2 separate regions of the Homo sapiens genome follow, and region 1 is linked to region 2. The links come from fine-mapping of genetic effects on gene expression. A gene starts in region 2. The other region holds a variant in brackets. All regions are shown on one strand. Distances are between the middles of the regions. Region 1 overlaps AOC3 (amine oxidase copper containing 3). Region 2 holds the start of LINC00671 (long intergenic non-protein coding RNA 671).

Evidence for each region. PIP is the estimated chance that this variant, and not a neighbour inherited with it, causes the effect.
Region 1: its variant is the best candidate, but not a certain one, in a credible set for the expression of LINC00671 in gastroesophageal junction (GTEx, PIP 0.69).

What each region holds. Positions count from the first base shown.
Region 1 is chr17:42,852,450-42,857,811 of GRCh38, forward strand. It overlaps AOC3 (amine oxidase copper containing 3), which reads left to right. Exons shown (of 4, transcript NM_003734.4): 1 at 1-494; 2 at 1,999-2,284; 3 at 2,995-3,124; 4 at 3,826-5,362. The coding sequence ends at 4,101. Among named protein-coding and RNA genes, the nearest start is that of AOC3, 3.9 kb to the left of the region's middle. The variant G/A (reference allele first, on the strand shown) is at 2,294.
Region 2 is chr17:42,896,223-42,901,595 of GRCh38, forward strand. It overlaps LINC00671 (long intergenic non-protein coding RNA 671), which reads right to left and starts at 2,512. Exons shown (of 6, transcript NR_027254.1): 1 at 2,411-2,512. It overlaps G6PC1 (glucose-6-phosphatase catalytic subunit 1), which reads left to right and starts at 4,577. Exons shown (of 5, transcript NM_000151.4): 1 at 4,577-4,884. The coding sequence starts at 4,655.

The DNA of each region.
Region 1 (5,362 bases), 44 kb before region 2:
GGCCATCTATGGTGGAAATTCCCCAGCAGCAATGACGACCCGCTATGTGGATGGAGGCTTTGGCATGGGCAAGTACACCACGCCCCTGACCCGTGGGGTGGACTGCCCCTACTTGGCCACCTACGTGGACTGGCACTTCCTTTTGGAGTCCCAGGCCCCCAAGACAATACGTGATGCCTTTTGTGTGTTTGAACAGAACCAGGGCCTCCCCCTGCGGCGACACCACTCAGATCTCTACTCGCACTACTTTGGGGGTCTTGCGGAAACGGTGCTGGTCGTCAGATCTATGTCCACCTTGCTCAACTATGACTATGTGTGGGATACGGTCTTCCACCCCAGTGGGGCCATAGAAATACGATTCTATGCCACGGGCTACATCAGCTCGGCATTCCTCTTTGGTGCTACTGGGAAGTACGGGAACCAAGTGTCAGAGCACACCCTGGGCACGGTCCACACCCACAGCGCCCACTTCAAGGTGGATCTGGATGTAGCAGGTAAGACATTTTGGTGGGGAGAAGGCTTCTGGAAGAAGGGCTGAAAAGTTGTTTCCATTAGCTTTGGGTTTTATGTAGATTATCCCAGAAAGGAAGACGTGGATTTTTGTACTTCCCCTTTTGCTGGATGGGAGAGAGTTGGCTGCTGAGTTTTATTTGGATCTTAGCTCACTGGCTGGGTGCAAAGCTGCAGCCTTCCTCTACGTGACCTCATCCAAAGATCTTGGGAAATGGCCGAGCTCAGGGAGGAGGCAGGATTTGGGCTAACAGTGTCCCCATTGCCCTCTTCTCTCCCTTGTACTTATATGGGCTCTGCTGCTGGGAGCAGCCTTCTGTTTGTCAGCTCAGTTCTGTGTCTGGCCTGTGGTGGTGGTGTTTTGGAGGATCTCTTTGCATTCTACCACGTCCCTGGCATGTGCAGGTCAGTCATTCCAGGTTGTACATTTCCTTTGGAGATGGACCCTCCTCCCTGATTTTCCTTCTTTCTCTGGGCACAATTCACCTAAGTGTGAGGGGTCACATGGATCCCGTGGAGCATTCTGGATAGATCCTGGAGTCTGGTCACAGAGAGAGCCAAGGCTACATGATGGCTTGGAGTCTTCATCTTTGTCTTTTCACTGTCTTTCCCCACATTGAGTCAGTCACCAGGTGTTTTTTTTTGGTTTTGTTTTATTTTGTTTTGTTTCTGTTTTGCACCTGCAGTATCTCGGCAGGTCAGACTGTCATGCCGTGCAGGTGCCAGCCCTCTCTCTGCTGTTTTTGCTCTTGTTGCTCTCAGAGCCAAGAGCCACTCTGCACCCAGAGGGCCTCCCATCCACACCAGCCTGCCCTTTACTCAGCTCTCACTTTCGTCATCACCTGTGGGATCCTGTCTGCAGAACCCCCTCAAAACTCTTTCCTTCACGGTGCAGCTCCACCCTGCCTTGCTGTGCTCTGCACAGCTACACCCAAATTCTCCATGTCCCTGGACACGCACTTCACATGTTACAGTCAGGCATCCTCCTGTTTGCTTATGCTTTGTCTCTGCTTAGAATGTCCTTCCATATCATCTTTTCTGGTAATGTCCTTTAAGGCCAGGCTGAAAAGTTGCCCGGAAGGGCCCCCTTTTCCTGCCTGCAACTGTATTCCTGTGATCCGGAAGTTGCCTAGGCCATGCTCCTCTCACAGGACAGGCCAGTCAGTGGTTTGTCTGTCTGCGTGGAAAGCAAGAGGGTAAGGATGATCATTCATCTCTATCCCCAGGGACGAGTACAGTCCTCTCTGCTAATGAATGTTGAAAGAATGAATGAGTGAAATGGAATGAACTCCCTGATGAAGTATTTTAATTTACAGGTCAACAGCTTTGGCTAAAGGATTGGAGGTATCCTGGGGAGAGGGAAGAGAAGGAGGGGCACACTCAGTTCTGGGCTGCTCTTTGGCCCCCACTCTGAAGCCAGATGGGGGCAGAGTCCAGAGGGGCCAGGGCAGTTGCCTGACAGGCCCTCCCCTATCCCACCCTGAGCAGGACTGGAGAACTGGGTCTGGGCCGAGGATATGGTCTTTGTCCCCATGGCTGTGCCCTGGAGCCCTGAGCACCAGCTGCAGAGGCTGCAGGTGACCCGGAAGCTGCTGGAGATGGAGGAGCAGGCCGCCTTCCTCGTGGGAAGCGCCACCCCTCGCTACCTGTACCTGGCCAGCAACCACAGCAACAAGTGGGGTCACCCCCGGGGCTACCGCATCCAGATGCTCAGCTTTGCTGGAGAGCCGCTGCCCCAAAACAGCTCCATGGCGAGAGGCTTCAGCTGGGAGAGGTGAGTGGC[G/A]GGCAGTCAGAGAGGAGGGGGGCAGTGAGAGTGGGAAAGGAGTGTTGGCGGACACTCAGCTCACACTGTAGGTGAGGGGAGAGCTCTCTCAGGAAGGCTTTTCTTTTCCTTTTTTTTTTTTTTTTTTGAGATGGAGTTTTGCTCTGTTGCCCAGGCCGGAGTGCAGTGGAGCAATCTCACTGCATCCTCCGCCTCCCAGTTTCAAGCGATTCTCCTGCCTCAGCCTCCCCAGTAGCTGGGATTACAGGTGCACGCCACCACACATGGCTAATTTTTGTATTTTTAGTAGAGATAGGGTTTCACCATGTTGGCCAGGCTGGTCTCGAACTCCTGACCTCATGATCCACCCTCCTTGGTCTCCCAAAGTGCTGTGATTACAGGCATGAGCCACAATGCCTGGCCAAAGGTTTTTCTAGTTATCCAAAGAAACCATGATGGGCACATTTTCCCCTTGGAGGCTAAAGCCCAGGAGTGAGAACTCTCTTCTGTTTTGGATGGGAGAGGGGTTGTACTGTTAAATGGCTGGGGATAAACAGGAGGACTTGACCCCCCTTAGGGTGACGTCGGGGATTCTGTAGCGCCGAGTCAGTTGTGTGACTGCAATTGGGGAAGCTGAGCTCTGAGCACTCAGTTCCCTTTCATCATAATCAGGCAGCAGGATGGGGTCAATGGCCATGGAGGCCTGACCAGTGCCTCCCTAGGTACCAGCTGGCTGTGACCCAGCGGAAGGAGGAGGAGCCCAGTAGCAGCAGCGTTTTCAATCAGAATGACCCTTGGGCCCCCACTGTGGATTTCAGTGACTTCATCAACAATGAGACCATTGCTGGAAAGGTCAGCTGGCCGGGGTAGAGGGTACAGGATGAGCCTTGCTTTCTCTTGGGAGGGTCCCTGAAAACCACCTGCACTTCTCAGGGGTGGTGCTGATTCCTGCCTTCTGCACTTCAGTATATCTGATCATTATCCTTTGAGGGAACCTTCCTGAGCTGGGTGTCCATATGCAGACACTGAGTGAGGCCCTGGGCCTGTCCTTGAGATCTTAGAGCCCTCTTAGTTCCAGTTTCATGGACTGAGTCCTTTCCAGGCTCCAGGACTCAGGAGGGATGGAAGTTACCAGGGAAAATGACATCTCCTGTATCTGAAGCTTCTCCCATTCCTGACTTGATGAATTTCACAATGTTGGCCTGGTTCTGCTTCCCAAGCGCTGGTTCTTTTTCCTCCACCCTTCTTTCCTCAGTTGTGGGGAACTCTTGGAGAGTTAGGGGAAGAGGAGCTGAAGTAGCCTGTGGGTGTCACCCTCTGGGGGTAGATAGGCAATGGGCGATATGATGGGAAATGTCAGAGATGGAGGCTGCAAGCCAGGGACAGGGAAGCAGGTGTTCCTAATATGAAATGGACTACTTATGCTTTGACTCCTACCCAGCAGGAAAAAATGTTTAAAGACTCATGATCCTTGGGCTGGTGAGCTGAATCCCTACCAGGGCATGTCCTCAGCAAAGCCAGACCTCGTGATCCTCTTTCTTCTCCCCTGCTAGGATTTGGTGGCCTGGGTGACAGCTGGTTTTCTGCATATCCCACATGCAGAGGACATTCCTAACACAGTGACTGTGGGGAACGGCGTGGGCTTCTTCCTCCGACCCTATAACTTCTTTGACGAAGACCCCTCCTTCTACTCTGCCGACTCCATCTACTTCCGAGGGGACCAGGATGCTGGGGCCTGCGAGGTCAACCCCCTAGCTTGCCTGCCCCAGGCTGCTGCCTGTGCCCCCGACCTCCCTGCCTTCTCCCACGGGGGCTTCTCTCACAACTAGGCGGTCCTGGGATGGGGCATGTGGCCAAGGGCTCCAGGGCCAGGGTGTGAGGGATGGGGAGCAGCTGGGCACTGGGCCGGCAGCCTGGTTCCCTCTTTCCTGTGCCAGGACTCTCTTTCTTCCACTACCCTCCCTCGCATCCGCCTCTGAGCCAGGAGCCTCCTGACCCTGTGATGCCTGACACAGGGGACACTGAACCTTGTTGATGCCAGCTGTACTGAGTTCTCATCCACAGAGGCCAGGCATGGCCCAGCCTGGAGCCGTGGCCGAGGGCTTCCCTAGATGGTTCCCTTTGTTGCTGTCTGGCTTTCCCGAATCTTTTTAGGCCACCTCCAAGGACTCTAAAAGGGGGCTATTCCCTGGAGACCCCAGAGTAGGGTTGCCAGTCCTGCAAGTCCATAGCTGAGCTGGAAAGGATGCTTCTGCTCACATTCCCTCTCATCCAGGTCCTTTCCTTCTCGTCTTCCTCTCTCTCACCTACTTCCTCCTCCTCCTCCTGTTCCTGCCTTCTCTTCTATCCTGCAATTTCTCCCGAATCCTGAGGGGATATCCCTATGTCCCAGCCCCTGGTACTCCCCCAGCCCTCAGTTTTCAGTCAAGTTCCGTCTCCTCTCCAGCCCTATGGAAGTCTCAAGGTCACGGGACCCCTAATCAGAGTGGCCAATCCCTGTGTGTCGTTCCCTTGTGTCTGTTGCTTATTGGGAGTAGGAGTTGCTCCTACCCCTGTCCTGGGGCTGGGTGTGTTTCAGGACAGCTGCTTCTGTGCATTTGTGTCTGCCTGCCTCATGCTCTCTATAGAGGAGGATGGTCATCGTGACAGCAGCAGCTCAAGTTAGCATTTCAAGTGATTTGGGGGTGCAATGATAATGAAGAATGGCCATTTTGTACCAGGGCTCTGTATTCTGCAACAGCCTGTTTGGGAGGCTGGAGTGGAAACAAAGGGTGGGCATCAAAGATGAGAAGCCAAAGCCCCTACAACTCCAGCCACCCAGCCAGGAGGGGCTGTCCAATCACATTCAGGCATGCGAATGAGCTGGGCCCTGGGTGAGGTGGGGGTCTGGCCTAGTGGGGAGGGGCCTGGCCTGGGTGGGGCAGGGCCTGGCCTGGTCCAGGCTTGGGCTCCATTCCCATCACTGCTGTCCCTCCTGAGGTCTGGATTGGGGATGGGGACAAAGAAATAGCAAGAGATGAGAAACAACAGAAACTTTTTTCTCTAAAGGACTGGTTAAATCAATTCTGATACAGCCTTACAATACAATAG
Region 2 (5,373 bases):
TCTCAAAGTGCTGGGTTTACAGGTGTGAGCCATCGCACCAGGCCGTGACTATTTTAAATAAAAAACCCTTGAGAGGTTTTTTCACCCTTGGGAGCCTGGAAGAGATTTTTTCCCCTATCTTTCACCTATAAAGATAGGACTGGCCGGGCATGGTGGCTCATGCTTGTAATCTCAGCACTTTGGGAGGCCGAGGCGGGTGGATCACCTGAGGTCAGGAGTTCGAGACCAGCCTGGCCCAACATGGCAAAACCCCATCTCTACTAAAAATACAAAAATTAATCGGGCCTGGTGGCACATGCCTGTAATCCCAGCTACTTGGGGGGCTGAGGCACAGGAATCGGTGGATCTCAGGAGGCAGAGGTTGCAGTGAGCCAAGATCATCGCATTGCACTCCAGCCTGGGCAACAAGAGTGATACTCCGTCTCAAAAAAAAAAAAAAAAAAGGACTGACACAAAAGAACAATTGTTCTTCTCCTTCCTTTATCCCATTATCCATCACAGAAAAGAAGACCAAAAATGTAACCATAAAAAAGTCTCAACAGACCCTTTTTCAAGACAATGACTGTCTCTGAGGACCATTTAAAATCCAGGGAGAACTATTTACAAGTTAATTTCTGTTCCTCGATCCAATCATTCTCCCTCTGCCCTTCGACAGAATTCCTCTTCTCCTCCTTCCCATAACCTGTTTTTAACAGGATCCAAGCCACCCATTCTTTCTGCAACCTCAAGATGGTGGATGAGCTTCCATACCTCACTGGGAAGTTGGATCTTCATTCTTAAGCCTCCCATGTATACATGTTAAATACATTTGTAATCTTTTTCTCATATTAATTAATCTGCCTTATGTCAGTGACTTTTCAGCGAACTTGTAGGTAGTCACTCACATAAGGATCCTCCAGTTTACATAGTTTTGTAAATGTCAGGTCACCCTGTCCCACTAGACCACCAAGGTCCTGGAGGACACCTGGGATTTAACTTTTTTTTTTTTTTTTTTTTTTGAGACAGTCTCGCTCTGTCACTGAGGCTGGAGTGCAGTGTCAGGATCTCCACTCACTGCAACCTCCACCTCCCGGGTTTAAGTGATTCTCCTGCTTCAGCCTCCCGAGTAGCTGAGACTACAGGTGCCCCTCATCATACCCGGCTAATTTTTATATTTTTAGTAGAGATGGGGTTTTGCTATATTGGCCAGGCTGGTCTTAAACTCCTGACCTCAGGTGATCCACCCTCCTCAGCCTCCCAAAGTGCTGGGATTACAGGCGTGAGCCACCATGCCCAGCCTGGCTTTTAACTTTTAATTCCTCAGAGAGCCAGGCATGGTGCTTTGCTCAGGAAATGTTGGTTGAATTAAACCGGAGCACTTCTTGAAAAGGGAAAATAACAAAGAGTTAGAAGGAGATGGCGGGAACCCCTCTCTGGAGATAGTTCTTTAAATTAGTGGATTCTGCAGGGCACTGTTGCTCATACCTGTAATCCCAGCATTTTGGGAGGCCAAGGCAGGAGGACCACCTGATGCCGGGAGTTTGAGACCAGTCTGGGCAATGTAGAGAGACCCCCATCTCCACAAAAAATAAAAAGTTAGCTGGGTTTGGTGGTGTGCGCCTGTAGGCCCAGCTACCCAGAGACTGATGCAAAACGATCCCTTAAGCCCAGGAGACTGAGGCTGCAGTGAGCTGTGATGGTGCCACCGCACTCCAGCCTGGGTAACAGAGTGAGACCCCGTCTCAAATAAACAGATAAATGAGTGGATTCTCAGCAAAACTTCTAGCCACTCGCCTCATATATCCACAAGACCTTTGAGAATCCACGGTGTCTCGATGCAGTCAGCTTTCTAACAAGCTGGGGCCTCACCTGTTTTCCCACGGATAAAAACGTGCTGGAGGAAGCAGAAAGGGGCTGGCAGGTGGAAAGATGAGGACCAGCTCATCGTCTCATGACTATGAGGTTGCTCTGATCCAGAGGGTCCCCCTGCCTGGTGGCCCACCGCCAGGAAGACTCCCACTGTCCCTGGATGCCCAGAGTGGGATGTCAACTCCATCACTTATCAACTCCTTATCCATAGGGGTATTCTTCCTGAGGCGTCTCAGAAAACAGGGCCCTCCCCATATGCTGACCACATAATAGAACCCCTCCCAACTCAGAGACCCTGGCTGCTAGCTGCCCTGGCATGACCCAGACAGTGGCCTTTGTATATGTTTTTAGACTCACCTTGACTCACCTCTGACCATAGAAACTCTCATCCCAGAGGTCACTGCAATAGTTACTCCACAACAGAGGCTTATCTGGGTAGAGGGAGGCTCCCTACCTATGGCCCAGCAGCCCTGACAGTGCAGATCACATATACCCCACGCCCCAGCACTGCCTGCCACGCATGGGCTTACTTTACACCCACCCACAGTCACCAACACATTACCTGCTCTCCAAGGTTAGGCGTGGCAGGAGAAGTTTGCTTGGACCAGCAGAAACCATGCAGTCAAGGACAACTGGAGTCAGCATGGGCTGGGTGCGAGCCCTTGGTGGGGTGGGGAGGAGACTCCAGGTCATACCTCCTGGAGGATGTTTTAATCATTTCCAGCATGGAATGCTGTCAACTTTTGCCACAGATTCATTAGCTCTGAGTTTCTTTTTTCTGTCCCCAGCTACCCCTTACATGTCAATATGGACTTAATGATGGGAAATTCAGGCAAGTTTTTAAACATTTTATTCCCCCTGGCTCTTATCCTCAAAAAATGCATGAATTTGGAGGCAGTGGCTCATGCCTGTAATCCCAATGCTTTGCTAGGTTGAGGCGGGAGGATCACTTGAAGCCAGGAATTTGAGACCAGCCTGGGCCGCATAGTGAGACCCCGTTTCTACAAAAATAAATAAATAAATAATAAATAATAGTGATATGAAGCATGATTAAATAGCCCTATTTTTTAAAATGCATGAGTTCGTTACCTGATTCATTCCCTGGTTCCTTTCACAGTCCTCCGTGACCCAAGTGTTAGGGTTTTGGTCTCTCTACTATTTGTAGGCTGATATATAGTATACACACACACACACACACACATATACACACACACAGTGTATCTTGAGCTTTCTTTTGTATATCTACACACATATGTATAAGAAAGCTCAAGATATAGAAGCCCTTTTTCAAAAATAACTGAAAGTTTCAAACTCTTTAAGTCTCCAGTTACCATTTTGCTGGTATTCTTATTTGGAACCATACATTCATCATATTGTTGCACAGTAAGACTATACATTCATTATTTTGCTTAAACGTATGAGTTAAAACACTTGGCCAGGCATGGTGGTTCACACCTGTAATCCCAGAGCTTTGGGAAGCCAAGACTGGCAGATCTCTTGAGCTCAGGAATTCAAGACCAGCCTGGGCAACATGGAAAAACCCCATCTCTACAAAAGATAGAAAAATTAGCCAGGCATGGTGGCGTGTGCCTGTGGTCCCAGCTACTCAGGAGGCTGAGGTGGGAGGATCACATTAGCCCAGGAGGTTGAGGCTGCAGTGAGCCGTGATTATGCCACTGCACTCCAGCCTGGGAGACAGAGTGAGACCCTGTTTCAAAAAAAAGAGAGAGAAAATTTAAAAAAGAAAACAACACCAAGGGCTGTAACTTTAAGGTCATTAAATGAATTAATCACTGCATTCAAAAACGATTACTTTCTGGCCCTAAGAGACATGAGGCCAATACCAGGAAGGGGGTTGATCTCCCAAACCAGAGGCAGACCCTAGACTCTAATACAGTTAAGGAAAGACCAGCAAGATGATAGTCCCCAATACAATAGAAGTTACTATATTTTATTTGTTGTTTTTCTTTTGTTTTGTTTTGTTTTGTTTTGTTTTGTTTTAGAGACTGGGGTCTTGCTCGATTGCCCAGGCTGTAGTGCAGCGGTGGGACAATAGCTCACTGCAGACTCCAACTCCTGGGCTCAAGCAATCCTCCTGCCTCAGCCTCCTGAATAGCTGGGACTACAAGGGTACACCATCACACACACCAAAACAATTTTTTAAATTTTTGTGTAGAAACGAGGGTCTTGCTTTGTTGCCCAGGCTGGTCTCCAACTCCTGGCTTCAAGGGATCCTCCCACCTCAGCCTCCCAAATTGCTGGGATTACAGGTGTGAGCCACCACAACCAGCCAGAACTTTACTAATTTTAAAATTAAGAACTTAAAACTTGAATAGCTAGAGCACCAAGATTTTTCTTTGTCCCCAAATAAGTGCAGTTGCAGGCATAGAAAATCTGACATCTTTGCAAGAATCATCGTGGATGTAGACTCTGTCCTGTGTCTCTGGCCTGGTTTCGGGGACCAGGAGGGCAGACCCTTGCACTGCCAAGAAGCATGCCAAAGTTAATCATTGGCCCTGCTGAGTACATGGCCGATCAGGCTGTTTTTGTGTGCCTGTTTTTCTATTTTACGTAAATCACCCTGAACATGTTTGCATCAACCTACTGGTGATGCACCTTTGATCAATACATTTTAGACAAACGTGGTTTTTGAGTCCAAAGATCAGGGCTGGGTTGACCTGAATACTGGATACAGGGCATATAAAACAGGGGCAAGGCACAGACTCATAGCAGAGCAATCACCACCAAGCCTGGAATAACTGCAAGGGCTCTGCTGACATCTTCCTGAGGTGCCAAGGAAATGAGGATGGAGGAAGGAATGAATGTTCTCCATGACTTTGGGATCCAGTCAACACATTACCTCCAGGTGAATTACCAAGACTCCCAGGACTGGTTCATCTTGGTGTCCGTGATCGCAGACCTCAGGAATGCCTTCTACGTCCTCTTCCCCATCTGGTTCCATCTTCAGGAAGCTGTGGGCATTAAACTCCTTTGGGTAGCTGTGATTGGAGACTGGCTCAACCTCGTCTTTAAGTGGTAAGAACCATATAGAGAGGAGATCAGCAAGAAAAGAGGCTGGCATTCGCTCTCGCAATGTCTGTCCATCAGAAGTTGCTTTCCCCAGGCTATTCAGGAAGCCACGGGCTACTCATGCTTCCAACCCCTCTCTCTGACTTTGGATCATCTACATAAAGGGGGAAGACAGAAAAAATCCTACCAGTGAGTTGAAAATACAGGAAAGCCTATTTCATATGGGTTAAAGGGTAGGACAGTTGAATTTCGTGAAAAGTCTGAGTTATATAGGCTTTGAGCAAAGAGTTTTATTAGTATGAAGCAGAAGAGGTAACATAAAGAAAGATGTATGGGGCCAGGCATGGTGGCTCACACCTGTAATCCCAGCACTTTGGGAGGCCGAGGTGGGCGAATCACTCCTGGGTGAACTCAGGAGTTCAAGACCAGCCTGGGCAACATGGCGAAACTCCATCTCTACAAAAACATTACGAAAATTAGCTGGGCGTGTTGGTG